Linked DNA regions of Homo sapiens: region 2 is linked to region 1. The links come from fine-mapping of genetic effects on gene expression. A gene starts in region 1. The other region holds a variant in brackets. All regions are shown on one strand. Distances are between the middles of the regions.

Region 1 (9,266 bases):
GGTTTTGGGATGAAATTGTTCCACCTCAGATCATCAGGCATTAGTTAGTTTCTTATAAGGAGCATGCAACCTAGATCTGGTGCATGCACAGTTCACAAGAGTTTGCACTCCTATGAGAATCTAATGCCATGGCTGATCTGACAAGAGATGGAGCTCAGGCAGTAATGCTCACTACCCACCGCTAACCTGCTGTGTGGCCCGGTTCCCTGTTACAGGCCACACACTGGTACCAGTCCTCAGCCTGGGGGTAGGGGAGCCCTGCTATATAAGAAAAAAAAGAGACTATGCTATTACTAGATTGGAGGACCCACTTGCCAAACATATAATTGGAATTGTTTTTGTTAACACAAATATTACGGATGATATTAATAAAAACTGTTTTTTTAAATTTAGTAAACAAATTTTCTTGGTGACAGGGTCTCTGTCACTCAGACTGGAGTGTAGTAGTGCAATAGTAGCTCACGGCAGCCTCGAACTTCTGGGCTCAAGCAATCCTCCTACCTCAGCCTCCAAAGTAGCTGGGACCACAGGCATGTACCACCATGCCCAACTAATTTTTTTTTTATTTTTTATAAAGATGGGGTCCTGCTATGTTGGCCAGGTTAGTCTTGAACTCCTAGCCTCCAGCAATCCTCCTGCCTTGGCCTCACAAAGCACTGAGATTACAGGTGTGAGTGACGGCACCTGCCCCCTCACTTTTTTTTTGAGATAGGATCTTACACTGTTGCCCAGGCTGGAGTGCAGTGGCAAGATCATGGCTCGCTGCAGCCTCAAACTCCTGGGCTCAAACAATCCTCCCATCTCAGCCTCCTGCGTAGCTGGGACCACAAGTGTGTGCCAGCATACCTGGCTAATTTTTTATTTTTTGTAGAGACAAGGTCTCCCTATGTTGCCCCGGCTGGTCTCAAACTTCTGGGCTCAAATGATCCTCCTGCCTCAGCCTCCCAAAATATTGAGATTACAAGTGTGAGCCACTGCACTCTGCCTCTGGTCATATTTTTAATACTAAGATGGAATTATGTAATTCTAACAGGGAGATCAGTTTTTAAACATCAGTGAAGGTATTCCCTCAAGCATTTCAAAGTTGTAGAAGTTGAAGTAAAACTATCTCCAGCCATTACTTGGAAGCTATAAAGAGAAGTCAACACCTAACAAATTTAGTACTTAAATTCCTCCTTAGAGTGGAACAATGTGACTTTTATCTGTAACAAATGGAAAGGCAGAAAGTATACTAAATATGCATATTTATAACTTCATGAAATGTAACTAATCTCTCCTGATTTTGTCTAATGGGGAGAAAGGAGACACGGGGAAGCAAGATAAAATTACGAAAGTCTTTTAGTTTTCTTCAAGAGCTTATGATACCATGGCCAGGAGCGGTCGTTCTCACCTGTAATCCCAGCACCCTCAAGGGAGGATCCCTTGAGCCTAGAGAAGTTTGAGACCAGTCTGGGCAAGTTAGGGCGACCCCAACTCTACAAAAAAAATTTTTGATTAGCTAGGCATAGTGGCATGCACCTGTGGTCCCAGCTACTCAGGAGGTTGAGGTGCGAGGATTGTTGGAGCCTGGGAGGTTCAGGCTACAGTAAGAGGTGATTGAGCCACTGCACTCTAGCCTGGGTGACATAGCAAGACCTTGTCTTTAAACAAAAAAAGCTTATTATACCTCAGTAGCCTAAGTTTCTGAGGAAAGTTTTTTTAGTCCCTGGGTAGACCGTTTAAAATACAGACTGGATTCCTACTAAGAACCTTCTAATGGTCCTTCACTACAAATGGAATAAAATACTCAAACCACACCTCATACGGGGTCCCTCATCTGACCCATTGAGGCCACAACAGAAACTCTGCAGCATTCCTCCCTTTGCAAGAACAATTCTCTTCCTAGATCTGTTTACAAGGCAAGCTCTTCCTTATTTAGGTTTCCTATCAAGTGTACCTCCTTGGAGACCATCTCTCCTCACCTGACATAAAGTATGCTCATACCCCAGGTCACCCAAAACAATGTCATTGTTAATATATTTGTCTTCATGACACTTAACACTACTGGAAATGACCTTATTCTTTCATTTACTTGTTTGTTCTTTGTCACCCCTTCTAGAATGTAAGGTCTATGTTGAGGGTGAGGACTGCAGTTCAACACTATACTTCCCTAAACAGTGCCTTGAGTATGGAAGGCAGTCAATTTGCTGAATAAATAACGAATGAATCCTGATCTGGAGAAAGGAGGAGGAGTTGTGTTACACAGGAACATTCTACTCAAGGACTGTGACTAAGGATTGAAATAATCTGCTAGCAATAGATGATTAGCATAAGCTTCAAACTAGGGCTGGGCGCGGTGGCTCCCGCCTGTAATCCCAGCACTGGGAGGCCGAGGTGGGCGGATCACTTGAGGCCACGAGTTGAAGACCAGCCTGGGCAATAAGGCGAAACCCCGTCTCTACAAAAATTAGCCCGGGGTGGTGGTGCATGCCTGTAGTCCCAGGTACTCAGGAGGCTGTGGTGGGAGAATCGCTTGAACCCGGGAGGCAGAGGTTGCAGGGAGCCAAGATCGCAACACTGCACTCCAGCCTGGATGACAGAGTGAGAACTTGTCTTAAAAAAAAGACTGAAACTAGGCTTTAGGCAGTTAACTTTTTAATAAAGAATAGTCATTTTATGTTTGGTGTTGAATGTTAGCTATTGTAATATAAAACTCTATTTCTTCCCTAAAAGGGGAAAAGCACCGTAATGTACCTATTGTTAATATACTCTTGTAACATGATTATTGAATATTAAAATATCATCATAGTAGTACTAAAAAATTGTTCCCTAAGAGTTCAACATTCTCTTGAGTCCTGAAGTTATAAACTTAAGAGTAATGGGGAACAAAATTAGTACTTATTATGTACGTAGTGAGTTCACATCACCCTAACAGAAAGTTGAGCTATTATCCACATTTTACAAATAAGGGACTCGAGACTCCTAAGTTAAAATTAAAATCTAGCCGTTCCCTAATGCTAATTTTCATCATGATATGTAAAAGTTATAACCATTGGTTTATTTTAAAAGCCTGAGTACAATAAAAAATCCAAACGTTCTGAGATGTCTTTGAATACATTAATCAGGACTGAGTACTGCATCTGTCTTTGCCCCTCCTGAAACCAATACACACCTTATCTCCATCGCATTACCTTTGGGAATGTTATGGCAGTCCCTCTTTTCATCAATACTACATAGTCTTCCAAGGCTGGCCTCCTCAGCATGTACTGCTTACCGAAGGAACTCCTCAGTATCTGGCCGGGGAACTTCCCCACGATCTTGCCGAACGGGACTGCCCCCCAGTTACTATTTAAGAGTCCGAAGTTGTTCAACCTAAATAATTTCTTAAATTTTGTTTCTCCCTCCCCAGTCTCAGCTAAAATCAGTTCCCCAGCCTGAAAGGGTCTCTCTCTGGAAGTTGAACAAGAAGGGGAGACGTGACGCTCTTCGACCTCGGTAGCGGACTGGGCCTGCGAGAGCATCGAAGGATCCTCGGATCCCTGGTGTGTGGGACCGCACCGGCCCTGGTCTCCGCTCGAGTCCTCGAGCTCTCGAGGGGATGACTCTTCCCGCAGCGTCGGCAGTCTGAGGTTTTCCAGTGACGAAAGACATCCAGTCCCAATGTCCGAGATGCTCAGAGGGAGAGATGGGCAAGACTCTGCTCCTGGGGCTTTCCTTTGTGCCGCCTCGTGCTCTCTTTCTCCATCTCGCAGGTCTCTAGGCGAGGACCTGCAACACAGTGACCGAGCTCCCTCGAAGGGCTCCTGCCCCAGGCCGTGCAGGAATGAATTGGTTCCGAGCCCCTGCCGCAGGCACAGCAAGACAGGACCGCGGCACCATGCCATTAGCATAGTGTTTCGCGAAGGCGCCGTCGCAGACGAGTGACGCAAGCCTAGCGCGACCCCTTCTTTCCCAGTCGCGCGCATGGCGCAGCAGCCCGATGGCTCTGCAGCTGCGTGGGGCTCTACAGCTCCGCGACTGCGCCTGCGTCGGGGAGGGGGCGGTGCGCTAGGTCAAGCTAGGGCGCGGGAGCAGCGGAGTCCTGGTTGAGTGACCATCCAAGGAATATGTCCTCGCGCGCGGCCGCCGTTTTCCTTTTCGGAATGTGGGTAAAGAATTTACCGCTAACAGACGACCTCCAGGTTCGCTCTTGGACAGCAAGATTGAGAGACAAAACTTAACAAAGCGCTGTGCAAACTGAAATCCCAGGCTTAGCTCGCTTGTGTCTTGAACACGGAAGTCACCTAGTCACCCACAAGATGTATGAGTACAGCTAACCCCCAGATGCATTTGACAGACGGCGTGGGACGCGCCACTTGCTGATTGGCTCTCCTTTCCCAGTTGACCGCGACATCCCCCAGCCCCAACTCCCTTTTGATGGGGCTGTGACCACCTGCCGGTCCCCTCACCCACCCCTCACGCCCGGAGAGTCCGAGGTTGATTCGAGTACTCACTATGTGCTTATGTAACACATGTTTTCATTATTAAAATATAACTAGTTTACCCTCCCAAAACGAAATAGAAGTGTCTTAAAATGGAAACAGGTATCTTTGGAGGCCAGAGTTATTTAGCGTTAAATATCACTAGCCTCCCAGCATTTTGGGAAGCCGACCGAGGCAAGCGGCTCATTTGAGGTCAGGAGTTCGGGACCAGCCTGGCAAATGTGGTGAAACCCCGTCTCTACTAAAAATACAAAAATTAGCTGGGCGTGGAGGCACGCACCTGTAATCCCAGCTACTCGGGAGGCTGAGGCAGGAGAAGCGCTTGAACCCGGGAGGCAGACGTTGCAGTGAGCTGAGATCTCGGCACTGCACTCCAGCCTGGGCGACTGAGCAAAACTCCTCTCGGGGGAAAAAAATTAGTCGGGCGCGATGGTGCACGCCTGTAATACCAGCTACAAGGGAGGCTGAGGCATGAGAATAGCTTGAACCCAGGAGGCGGAGGTTGCAGCGGGCCAAGATCGAGCTACCACTGCACTCCAGCCTGCGCGACACAGCAAAACTCTGTCTCAAAAAAAAAAGAAAAATCGCTAGCCTCTTTGCTGGATATTAGTTGACTGGGCAAAAGTTTATTGAGAGTCTGGCAATACGAGGCACGTTAGACACTCATTTAAGTTTCCAACAATTCTGTGTTAGAAACAAATCCATTTTATGAGTAAAAGAACTGGCCCAGGGAGATTAAATAATTTGGGGAAACCAGGAGTGGTGGCTCACACCTGTAACCCCAACACTTTGGGAGACCCAGGCCAGAGGATTGCTTGAGCCCAGGATTTCAAGACCCACGTGCAACATAATAATAATAAGTTGGTCAAGATGCATAGCTGACAAGTGGCATTGCAGAGTTTCCTATTTAGTCAGTCTGGTTCAGCAGCCCATGCTCTTTGTACTGTAACACCGTTTGGAAAGACTGGTCAACAGCACAGTTGAACTTAAAGTCCAAGTATATTCAAAGGGCTGTGAAGTCAATGTGAATTCTGTTTAAATTTGATGAAATAAATCTTGTTATTCTTTTTTTTTTTTTTTATTTGAGACAGAGTCTTGCTCTTGTTGCCCAGGCTGGAGTGCAATGACACGATCTTGGCTCACTGCAACCTCTGCCTCCTGGGTTCAAGCGATTCTCCTGCCTCAGCCTCCCGAGTAGCTGGGGTTACAGGCACCTGCCACCATGCCAGGCTAATTTTTGTATTTTTAGTAGAGACTCGGTTTCACCATGTTGGCCAGGCTGGTCTCGAACTCCTGACCTCATGATCCACCCGCCTCGGCCTCCCAAAGTGCTGGGATTACAGGCATGAGCCACCGCGCCTGGCCGTTATTACTTTCTAAGACATAAATTAATACTTTCTAATCAGTACTTTCTAGGACATCAGCCACCATAAACTCCATCAACAGGATTTCTCCCTTCTTTTTTTCCTTTTTTTTTCTTTGTGAGACAGAGTCTCACTCTCGCCCAGGCTGGAGTGCAGTTGTATGATCTCGGCTCACTGCAATGTCTGCCTCCCAGGTTCAAGCAATTCTCCTGCCTCAGCCTCCCAGATAGCTGGGATTACAGGTGTGCACCACCATACCCAGCTAATTTTTGTATTTTTAGTAGAGACGGGGTTTCGCCATGTTGGCCACGCTGGTTTGAACTCTTGACCTCAGGTGATCCACCCACCTCAGTCTCCCAAAGAGCTGGAATTACAGCCATGAGCCACTGCACCCAGCCAAATTTCTCCCTTCTAATTCTAAAAATGAATAAAGAAACTGCTCTCTCCACACCCCAACTGCGTGTCTCACTTTGTGTAGTTTGCTTTTTAGGAAAAGTTATGACCAATAGTTTCTGGAGTCGTAGGCTTTTCTCACTACTTTTTCTTGTGATAGGCTTTCTAAGACAAAAACTCATTTTTGGTTATAAAATTCTTGAAATTAAGGAGATTATCATTGCCAAACATGGGTCTGAGCCGGAACCTCCTGAACTCTAAGCCCTATGGTGGTTTTAAAAGTTATCATACCTACTTTATTATTTCTTGAGTATTATCAAATGATACTTGGCTGTTATTTCAGAATAAGCAGGAATTGGAAAAAAAGAAAATACACTAACAAAATATGGGAAGTAAATTTACATATCTTTGATTTTTAAAACAAATTGTAAATGGAAAATGGCATCACTTTCTTTCCATTGTTTAAATAACAGCCACAATGTTATACGTATTTTGTTTTATACACATCTAATGAAATACATTAGTACATTTTGGAAAATAATATTATTTATTCATGATCTTTCAGAGCATTGAAATTCTTAAAAAAGAAGTCACTATGTGGGCCTTTCTATTTCTGGCTATCCTTTACTTCTGCTTTCCCTATGAAATTGTCAGCCTGCACTCTGAAACTATTATCTTGATGATGAATTTGTGATACATCGTCAACTTATCATGTTTACTTACTTAATTTATTTACTGAGACGGAACTTTGCTCTTGTCACCCAGTCTGGAGTACAATAGCACGATCTCAGCTCACTGCAACCTCTGCCTCCTGGGTTCAGGTGATTCTCCTGCCTCAGCCTCCTGAGTAGCTAGGATTACAGGCCTGTGCCACCACGCCTGGCTAATTTTTTGTATTTTTAGTAGAGACTGTGTTTCACCATGTTGGCCAGGCTGGTCTTGAACTCTTGACCTCAGGTGATCCACCCACCTCGGCCTCCCAAAATGCTGGGATTACAGGCGTAAGCTACCGCGCCCAGCCCATGTTTACATTATAAGGCTAAGAAAAATACTGTTTTCTAGTGACATTTAGTTAAGCATTTACTTTAAAATCTGAATAGTTCTCAATAAATACCATGGCTGATGGCTGGCATTTTAAAATCTCCAAACAGGCAACCAGTTCTAGTTCCACAGGTGATCTCCTCCAGCTCTTTGCACATGCTTCTTCACTCTATTTTGTGTAGTTTTCCCTTGTCCTCCAGCTATCAACCTCACAGTACCACTGGAATGGTGGCTTTGTACCAATCCCAAAAGACCTAGAGTAGTGCCTTTCACTTCTGCTCCCAGTGGGTCCTGCCTGTTTTTGTTTTTATTTTAGAAATAGGGTCTTGCTCTGTCACCCAGGGTGGAGTGCAGTGGTGCCATCATAGCCTACTGCAGCATCGAACTCCTGGGCTCAAGCAATTGCCCTGATTCAGCTTCCAGCGTAGCTGGGACTACAGGCATGTGCCACCAATGCATGGCAATTTTTTTTTTTTTTTTAAAGACAGAGTCTTGCTCTTGTCGCCCAGGCTGGAGTGCAATGGCGCAATCTCAGCTCACTGCAACCTCCCCATTCTGGGTTCAAGCGATTCTCCTGCCTCAGCCTCCCAAGTAGCTGGGATTACAGGCACCCACCACCATGCCCAGCAAATTTTTGTATTTTTAGTAGAGATGGGGTTTTACCATGTTGGCCAGGCTGGTCTCGAACTCCTGACTTCAGGTGATCCACCTGCCTCAGCCTCCCAAAGTGCTAGGAATACATGCGTGAGCCAATGTTTTTTGTTTTTTTTTGTTTTTTTGTTTTGTTTGTTTGTTTGTTTTGTTTTGTTTTGTTTTGTTTTGTTTTGTTTTACAGGGTTTCACTCCCATCACCCAGGCTGGACTGCAGTAGCATTCTCTTGACTCACTACAAGGTCTGCCTCCCGGGTTCAAGTGATCCTCCTGCCTCAGCCTCCCGAGTAACTGGGATTACAAGCTCATGCCACCACCCCTGGCTAATTTTTCTATTTTTAGTAGAGACGGGGTTTCACCATGTTGGCAGGCTGGTCTTAAACTCCTGACCTCAAGTGATCCACCTGCCTTGGCCTTCCAAAGTGCTGGGATTACAGGTGTGAGCCACGCGGTTGGCCATAATTTAAAAAAAATTTTTTGTAGATGCAGGGTCTTACTATGTTGACCAGGGCAGTCTCAATTCCTAGCCTCAAGCAATCCTCCCTCCTCAGCCTCCCAAAATGCTGGAATTATAGGCAAGAGTCACCACATCCAGCCAGAGTCCTGTCTTTAGATCTATCATGGCACATGTCATACTATATGGAAATTGCTATTTATCATTTCCCAGGATAGAGGATATAATTGTTGGGGAGAAGACTATGTCTTGTTCATCATTATAATTCCAGTGCCTGGCACAAAACATCTCTCAATAAACATTTGTTGAATAAATGAATGAAGAAAGTAGAAAATGAGAAAATTAACAGCACTGATACCTAGACTACTATACTAAATAACTCAATGTATAAACATGGTGCAATTATATTTAATAGTTATCATGTATTTTGTTCTGTGTCTGTACATTCATTTAGTTTTTATTAGAACTGTTGAAGTTCACAGATTTTTTTCTTACTGTATTTTAGCAAAATAGAAAATATCTATGTCTAAGACTATACCTGCTTTTCTCCTGCTTTTTCACTTTATCCCCAGTTGCTGCTAAACTTGAATCTGGATTCTGTAGAACTTCTCCTCTAGGATTTACTGCTGTGTTACTAGAAACTGCAAATCCAAATTCAGAGAAGTTTAAAACCTTCTCAAACATGTGTACAGGCATCAAAGAAAAATTGATGATATTGAGAATTGGAGGGTCTTCTCACTTATCACCACCCACCACCACCACTCACTAAACCCCTTTTCTGTTTCTAAATTAGAGGATATTATACAGGATGAACCCAAGCCAGTTTGTTAGCACATTGTAAGCCATCATTTTAGAGTTTCAAGAATTGATCAGTCCTTCCTCCTCCTGGAGAAGATCTTAGAT
Region 2 (9,266 bases), 41 kb before region 1:
TGAGAGGAAGATTAAGTACTTTCTAAGAACAAACAAGTTAGTAAGCAGCAAAGCAGGGGCACAAACTCAGGAGTGGTTATCAATGACCAAATTCAGCCATCAACCACTAAGTTAAATTGCTGTTTATATATCTCAGTATTGTATTGTATCTATGTTGATGCAATATTTATTTTGTGTTTTTTTTTTACCTGAGAATTAAAAACAAACCAAAAGAAGCTTTAGTTTAAATCTTACTAGATGCCTGAAATTGAATTCGTTTAACTTGTTTTATAAAGTTATTACCAGTAGAGCACTATTGAGTTTATGCAATACAATTATCTGTAAGGTTGTACTGCATGTTGTATTATGTAAGCTCCATATTAAAAATAACATGAATTATAATTTCCATTTTAAGACTAATCATACTTTTTGTATGGCCTCAATAGTTCTCCTCGTTAAATATTTTCTCAGCCATAGTTCTAAAGCTCAAGTTCTTTTCCTTTCTATACAGTCTTATAATGTTTCCTTTCTATGTATTCTTATAAGACTCTGAACTTCTATTATCATTCTTCCACATTACCTTTCACAATTATTTGTTTCATGCTTACTTGCCTTCTTTACTTAATTGTAGGCTCCTTATGGGCAAGGAACATATAACATTTTATTTCATCTTTCAATTACTAACATATAGGAGGTTCTTAATTTTTTTTTTGAGACAGGGTCTCACTCTGTCACCCAGGCTGGAGTGCAGCAGCATGATCTTGGCTCACTGCAACCTCTACCTCTAGGGTTAAAGTGATCTTCTTGCCTCAGCCTCCTGAGTAGCTGGGACCACAGGCACATAGCACGACACCCGGCTAATTTTTTATTTTTTATTTTTTTTTAAAGATGGAGTTTTGCCATGTTGCCCAGACTGGTCTCAAACTCCTGACTTCAAGCCATCCTTCCCAAAGTGCTGGAATTACAGGCATGAGCTGCACACCTGGCCTTCTGGCTGCTTTTAAGACCTCTTTTTCTTTGGTGTTTGGCACTGGTTTCTTTTTAATAACTTACTTGGGATTTGGTAACCTTTCTGAAGATTAAGGATTGATGTTTTTCGTTTTTGTTTTTTGAGATGGAGTCTTGCTCTGTCACCCAGGCTGGAGTGCATTGGCACCATCTTGGCTCACTGCAACCTCTGCCACCCAGGTTTAAGCAATCCTTCCACCTCAATCTCCCAAGTAGCTGGGACTACAGGCACAGACCACCATGCCTGGTTAACTTTTGTATTTTTAGTAGAGACAGGGTTTCACCATATTGGCCAAGCTGGCCTCAAACTCCTGACCTCAGGTAATCCACCCGCCTAAGCCTCCCAAAGTACTGGGATTACAGACGTGAGCCACTGAGCCTGGCCTGAAGATTGATGCCTTTCAACAGACAACTCAGAAAATTCTATCCACTGTCTCTTCAAATATTTCTCTTCCTCTGCTATCTCCTTTTTCTCCTTTTGAAACCAATTAAACTTGTTATGCCTCGCTCGGTCTTCCCCATCACTTATCTTTGAAATTTTCTTTTTCTTTCTTTCTCTCTTTTTTTTTTTTTTTTTTTTTTTTTGAGACAGTCTAACTGTTGCCCAGGCTGGAGTGCAGTGGTGTGATCTCAGCTCACTGCGATCTCCACCTCCCTGGATCAAGGGATCCTCCCACCTCAATCTCCCGAATAGCTGGGACCACAGGCATTCACCACAACACCCAGCTAATTTTTGTATTTTTTTGTAGAGATGGGGTTTCTCCATGTTGCCCAGGCTGGGTTTCGAACTCCTCAGCTCAAGCACTCCACCTGCCTCAGCCTTCTAAAGTGTTGGGATTACAGGTGTGAGCCACTGGACCCATCCCCATCTTTGCTATTTTCTTTTTTCTTTTCTTTCTTTTTTTTTTTTTTTTTTTTAAGAAGGAGTCTCGCTCTGTCGCCCAAGCTGGAGTGCTCGGCTCACTGCAAGCTCCGCCTCCGGGTTCACGCCATTCTCCTGCCTCAGCCTCCCGAGTAGCTGGGACTACTGGCGCCCGCCACCACGCCTGGCTAATTTGTTTGTATTTTTTAGTAGAGACGGGGTTTCACCGTGTTAGCCAGGATGGTCTCAATCTCCTGACTTCGTGATCCACCCGCCTCAGCCTCCCAAAGTGCTGGGATTACAGGCGTGAGCCACCGAGCCGGGCCAATCTTTGCTATTTTCTATCTGTGTTTCTTTGGGCTGCATTTTAGATCATTTATTTAGACTTATCTCTCAGTTCACTAATTTTATCTTCAGCTTATGTCTAATATGCTAATTTCATTATAAAATTTTCCATTTATAAAAGTTCTATTTTCTTCTTTTTCAAATATACTTTTCCATGTATCGTATTATCTTTACTGGAAATAGTTATTCTTACTTTCTGTGTCTGTTCCATTACTTTCAGATTTCAGGGTCTGTTACTGTTCTTGGTACCTTGTTCCCTTATGTGTTTTGTAATATTTTTATTGTAAGTTGCCTGTTTTTCTTGGAAAGTCATCTGTGAGACTTGTACTATTTCCAATGAGAAATCTACCCCATCCTAATCATGGTGCCTGTGTTATCTAATGGTTTTTTTTTCTCTGAGTACTTTTAAGATTTACTCTTTATCACTGGTTTTGAGCAATTTGATTGTGGTGTTCACTGGTTTAATTTTCTTCATGTTTCATGTGCTTTGAGGTTCATTGAACTTCTTTGTAGGTTTATAGTTTTTATTAAATTTCAAAAACTTTCAGCTGTTACTCCTTCAAATGTCTTCTGTCCACCTCATTTTCTGTCTGCCCTATTCAGATTACAGTGCATTGAAAGAATCCTTCATTGTTATTGATACTGGCCTTCAGAGTCTCCAATTCCGCCTGTTTCTTGAAGTCCCACATCAAACTGATGCTGTGTTTATTTTTTCTTATTTTTTTCTTTTTTCTTTTTTCTTTTTGAGACAGAGTCTCCCCGTCACCCAGGCTGGAGTGCAGTGTTGCAATCTCGGTGGCTCACTGTAACCTCTGCCTTCCGGGTTCAAGCGATTCTCCTGCCTCAGCCTCCCAAGTAGCTGGGATTACAGGCGCAGGCCACCACGCCCAGCTAATGTTTGTATTTTTAGGAGAGATGGGGTTTCACTGTGTTGGCCAGGCAGATCTTGAACTCCTGGCCTCAAGCAATCCGCCCACCTTGGCCTCCCAAAGTTCTGAGATTACAGGAGTGAGCCACCACGCCCGGCCCTCATCTTGTGTTTATGATTTTTGTTTCTTTTTTCTCTGTGTATTTCATCTTGAATACTTTCTATTGTGTCTTCAATTCACAGATGTTTTCTCTGTAATATTTAATCTGCCATTAATCCCAATCAGTGTATTTTTCATTGTACACATTGTAGTTTTCATCTCTAAAAGTACATTTTCAATATGTCTACTTAACTTTTTGAACATACAGAATAGTTATAACTGTTCCAGTGTCCTTATCTTTTATGTCAACCATGGGTATCAGTTTGGGGTTGATTTTGATTAGTCGCCTTATGATGAGTCATGTTTTCCTGCTTCTGTGCATGCCTGGTCCCCATCAAGCATTCAGCAGAATGCTGAGTTTCATATGTGTATAAGAAAATTACCTGAATCTGAGGAAAGATGTTAAGAAAAGATTAGGAGGAATACTGCCTAACATTCACATACGGCTGCAAATAGTGGCTGTTCCCACCAGCCAGGCTGAAAAGATTCATAATTCATGGAGCATTGAGAAGAGTACTCAGGAAGGTCTTGCCTCAGTAGTGAGGAATAACTAGCCCCAGACTGAACATTGTTCCAGATCCACCTAAAAAAATCATAAAAGCAACATCTGAAAGAATCAGACTATTTCAAAGTAACTAACTGCATCCCAGAACAAAGCTCAAGATTTGTAGGAATAAGAAATACCTAGAACCCAACAAGGTAAAATTAACTACATGTATCTCTATTTTTGAACTGCATTTCTTTAATTAACGTTGAACACCTTTCATGTGTTTATAAACCACTTTTATGTCTTGGTGTATGTGAACTACCTGTTTCTGTCCTTTACCCATTTCTTTTTTGGGTTGTGATCTTCTTTGTTAGGTATCTGGCTAATACAGTTGAAGAAGATGAAGAAGAAACCAAGTACGAAATTTTTCCATGGGCTTTAGGGAAAAACTGGAGAAAATTGTTCCCTAATTTCTTAAAGTTAAGGGACCAGCTCTGGGATAGAATTGACTATAGGGCTATTGTAAGCAGGCGATGTTGTGAGGAGGTAAGAATTTTAAAATGCTTTATATATGTAATCTTTGTTTTCTGTTTATCTTATTATCCTTGTTTTTTAATGTGCTTCTAATGTTTTGGTATTCTGGGTTTTTTTTTTTTTTCTAATATGTGGAGTAGACCATTGATCATTACCATGAATACAACTTGTGTATTACAATGTTGCTGTCTTATTATCACCATAACTAAAAACTGTCAACCGGGCAAGCCCTGCTCACGCCTGTAATCCCAGCACTTTGAGAGGCTGAGGCGGGTGGATCTCCTGAGGTCAGGAGTTTGAGACCAGCCTGGCCAACATGGTGAAACCCCATTTCTACTGAAAATACAAAAATTAGGCTGGGTGCGGTGGCTCACGCCTGTAATGCCAGCACTTTGGGAGGCCGAGGCGGGCAGATCACGAGGTCAGGAGATCAAGACCATCCTGGCCAACATGGTGAAACCCGTCTCTACTAAAAATACAAAAAAAATTAGCCGGGCGTGGTGGCAGGCGCCTGTAGTCCCAGCTACTTGGGAGGCTGAGGCAGGAGAATGGTGTGAACCCAGGAGGCGGAGCTTGCAGTGAGCAGAGATCGCGCCACTGCACTCCAGCCTGGGCGACAGAGCGAGACTCCATCTCAAAAAAAAAAAAAAAAGAAAAGAAAAGAAAAAGAAAAATACAAAAATTAACCAAATGTGGTGGCTGGTGCCTGTAATCCCAGCTACTTGGGAGGCTGAGGCAGGAGAATCACTTAAACCCAGGAGGCAGAGGTTGCGGTGAGCTGAGATGGTGCCACTGTACTCCAGCCTGGGCAACAGAGCGAAACTCCATCTCAAAAACAAACAAACAAATTGTCATTTCTATTTTTCAGAGCAGCCTACTTCTATAGTAAGTACTTTTTTTTTTTTTTTTTTTTTGAGACAGAGTCTTGCTCTGTCACCCAGGCTGGAGTGCAGTGGTGCGATCTCTGCTCACTACAAGCTCCGCCTCCCGGGTCCACGCCATTCTCTTGCCTCAGCCTCCCAATTAGCTGGGACTACAGGCGCCCGCCACCATGCCTGGCTAATGTTTTGTATTTTTAGTAGAGACGGGGTTTCGCCGTGTTAGCCAGGATAGTGTCAATCTCCTGACCTTGTGATCCGCCCGCCTCGGCCTCCCAAAGTGCTGGGAGTACAGGCGTGAGCCACCGTGCCCGGCTTATAGTAAGTACTTTTATTTTAGTGTATTTCTTCTGTCTAAAGGATCATCAATATATTGAAAAAGGGTGATATGAACAAACCAAAATATCTTATTTAGGATTACAATAACACTGGAGTTGAATAATAATTTCTGCTCAATAAAGTATGTGAAATTTCAGGTTCCCAAAATTGAAACACTATTTAACACATATATTAAATGGTATACAATTTAAATATTCTTTAAAATCATAACTCTTTTCACAAAGAATATATTGTTTCCTTAATGCCAAATCTTTTAGGATAAATCAGCAAGACACTAAAAATTTAATAATCAGTTATTTTACCAAATGTTCTG[G/C]TTTTTAATAAAGTCACTATTTCAAACCACAGAAAAATTCTAGAGTAGAAAATTAAATGGAAAGCAGTGGTCACTGTAAGCTCTAGTATTAGTTAAGAAAAATTTGATAAATGTTGATATACTTGCAAATCTTAAGATTTGATAGAATTAACTTATTCATTAATATACATTGATTTAGTGAGCACTTAGTAAATACATACCAGAAACTATATTATTTCTTTTAATTTAAAAAGGGCAGGCAGGCATGGTAGCTCACACCTGTAATCCCAGCACTTTTGGAGGCTAAGGTGGCCTGGATCACTTGAGTCCAAGAGTTCAAGACCATCCTGGGTAACATGGCAAAACACTGTCTCCACAAAAAATACAAAAAATTAGGTAGGCGTGGTGGTGCACACCTGTAGTCCCAGCTACTTGAGAGGCTGTGGTGTGAGAATCACCTGAGCCCAGAAGATTCAGGCTGCAGTGAGCCATGATTATGCCACTGCCCTCCAGCCTCAGCAACAGAGCAAGACCCTGTCCCAAAAAATAAAAATAAAAAAGGCTTGAAGCAAAAATAGCAGTATTACATCTATTAATTCTAGGCAGTAGGGATATGGATGTTTGTTATATTATTCCTAATGCTTTTTCATAATTTTAAAATTTAGCAACATTTAAAAAAATTAATGGAACTTGTTTTTCCTCTTCAAAAAGGTCACCTTATTTAAATGAATTTAATTCCATTATCCTTATCACAATACTTTGTTTCCTTCTGTAGCACTGAATAAAATTTGTAATTATTTATTTGCTTATCTATTGTCTAAACAATAAACTGTAAATGTAATGAAGTAAAAAATCTAGTACACTTCTAATATCTCCCATCTCTGTCCTCACACTTCAATTACAACAATCATGCATTACTCTCTTTTACTGAGAAAAGAGAAGCAGTAGAACAGACTGTCCACGTGCTCACATCTTATCGTCTATCCTACCTACATGCGTACCCCTATATTCTGCCTTCCCTTTGTTACTGTGAAAGAACGATCTTTGCTCCTATCCAAATCCATTCCCTCTACTTGTGCACTAGATCTCATCTTTTCTTGCTTTCTCAAGGACATCACATTCCAGTAATTGTCCCCTTTCCAGCATTTCACATTTTTTATTTTATTGGATCACTGCCATCAGAATGTAGAATTGCTCTAAGATATCCATCAATAAAAACAAAAACAAAAACTTTATCCCCCAGCTACCACTACATTTCTCTGCTTTGCCTCCCTTATAACCAAACTCCTTGAAGAATTGCTTGTATTCTATCTCTACTTCTGTTCTTTCCATTCTGTTTGAACCTGTTATATAAAGTATTTTTCCTATCATTCTGTAGAAACTTGTCAGGCCACCAAATATCTCTATATGGCCAAATCCCAAGGTTAATTTGTATTCCTCAATCTACTCAATTTAGCAGCATTTGACACTATCCCTCATTTCTTCCTGAAACACTGTCTTCACTTGGTTTTGAGGATACCAGGTTTTTTTCAGTCATTTTTGCCAGTTCCTTTTCACCTCACCAACTTCATTAGAGTGCCCCAGGGCTCAGACTTAGGATCTCTTCTCCTTTCTATTGGTATTAACTTATTAGGTGACCCCATTCACTCTCAAGGCTTTAACACTAACAACTAATAATTTCTTCCAATTCCAGATCTGCATACGAAATCGCCTGTTGGTATTTTTTGTCTAATTGATACCTCAAACTTAACGTGCCTAAAATTGAACTCCTGACTCCTTGACACAGACCTCCAGATTTGCTCCTCCTGCAGTCTTCCACATATTCATAAGTAGCAACTCTATTGTTTTAGTTGCTCAGGCCAAAAAATTATTTCCATTTACCCTTCTTTTTCTTATATTTGTACCTTGAAAAAATATCCAGCATCCTACCATTTCTCACCACCTCCACCACTAATACTATACTTTTATTGTCACCTCTTGCCTTGATTACTGGCATAAGTTTCCAAATAGTCTCTCCCACCCCCACCTTTTTTTTTTTTTTAAAGACAGGGTCTTACTCTGTTACCCAGGCAGTAGTGCAGTGGTGAGATCATGGCTCATTGCAGCCTTAACCTCCTAGACTCAAGCGATCTCCTGCCTTAGCCTCCCAAGTAGCTGGGACTACAGGCATGTGCCACCATGCCCAGCTAATTTATTTTTTGTAGAGATGGGGTCTCGCTATGTTGCCCAGGCCGGTCTCAAAATCCTGTGCCTAAGCAATCCTCCCACCTTGGCCTCCCAAAGTGCTGGGATTGCAGGTGTGAGCCACCATATGCAGCTATAATCTATTCTTCATACAGCTGCCAGAGTAATTTTTTTTTTAGGTAAGTCAAATCATGACTTCTCTACTCAAAAGCCTCCAGTGTCTTCCAGCCTTACATAGGGTAAAAGAGAAAGTCCCTGTCATGGTCCTACATGGTCTATCAGCCCTCCTCCCTTATCTCTTTGATTTCATCTCATATCTTTGCTCTTCCACTCAAGCTACACCGGCCTCCTTACCTCAAAGATACCAGTTACACTCCCATCTCATGGTCTTTGCACTTACTATTCCCATAACCTGGAATGTTGTTCCCCAAATATCAGTATGCTTCACTTCCTAACTACGTTCAGGATTCTGCTTAAATGTCACCTCAGAGAGACCTTTCCTTATCACCTTATATAGAGTAGTATCTCCCTCCATGGAATAGAAGTGTCCAGAAATATACCGTCACAATTATGTTCAATTGAATTTTGACAAGGGTGCCAAGAAAATTCAATGGGGAAAATGTAGTCTTTTCAACAAATGGTGCTATGACAACTGGATATCTACAAGCAAAAGAATGAAGCCGAACCTCTGGTTTATACCATATATAAAAATTAACTCAAAATGGATCAAAGACCTAAATGTAAAACCTAAAACCATAAAACTCTTAGAAGAAAACATAGGGGTAAGTCTTCGTGACCTTGAATTAGGTTTCTTAGACATGATACCAAAAGTAACATGTAACAAAAGAAAATATAAAATAGACATCATCAAAATTAAAACCTTTTGTCCTTCAAAGGATACCAAGTGAAGAGATGACCTATAAAATGAAAAAAATTTTTTGCAAGTCATCTATTTGATAAGGGTCTTGTATCTAGAAATATAAAGAGCTTTACAACTTAATAATAAAAAGACAATCAATTTAAAAAATGGGCAAATAATCCAAATAGACATTTCTCCAAAGAAGGTATGCAAATTGCTAAAACACACACACACACACACACACACACACACACACTTGAAAAGATGTTCAACATCATTAGCTGTCAGGGATTGCAAATCAAAAGCACGATGAGATATTACTTCACACCCACTATGATGGCTATAAACAAAACAAAAATAAAAGTATTGAAGAGGATGTGGAGATACTGGAACCCTCATACACTTCTTATGGAAATGTAAAATGGGGAAGTTGCTTTGCATAACAGTCTGGCAATTCCTCACAAGGTTAAC

Direction of the effects. Positions count from the first base shown, and alleles are read on the strand shown. Sizes are in standard deviations (SD) of each study's normalised expression.
In carriers of allele C in region 2, the expression in left ventricle of the gene that starts at base 3,901 in region 1 tends to be higher than with G alone (small effect, 0.24 SD a copy in GTEx).

The links. PIP is the estimated chance that this variant, and not a neighbour inherited with it, causes the effect. A credible set is the group of variants that fine-mapping cannot tell apart.
Region 2: its variant is the best candidate, but not a certain one, in a credible set for the expression of TRMT61B in left ventricle (GTEx, PIP 0.59).

Annotation. Positions count from the first base shown.
Region 1 is chr2:28,866,409-28,875,674 of GRCh38, forward strand. TRMT61B (tRNA methyltransferase 61B) reads right to left here and starts at 3,901. Exons shown (of 7, transcript NM_017910.4): 1 at 3,171-3,901. The coding sequence starts at 3,869. RefSeq lists enhancers at 1,895-2,410, 2,411-2,925, 3,555-4,079, 3,694-3,863, 4,094-4,243.
Region 2 is chr2:28,825,065-28,834,330 of GRCh38, forward strand. It overlaps SPDYA (speedy/RINGO cell cycle regulator family member A), which reads left to right. Exons shown (of 8, transcript NM_182756.4): 6 at 4,084-4,255. Among named protein-coding and RNA genes, the nearest start is that of SPDYA, 19 kb to the left of the region's middle. The variant G/C (reference allele first, on the strand shown) is at 5,774.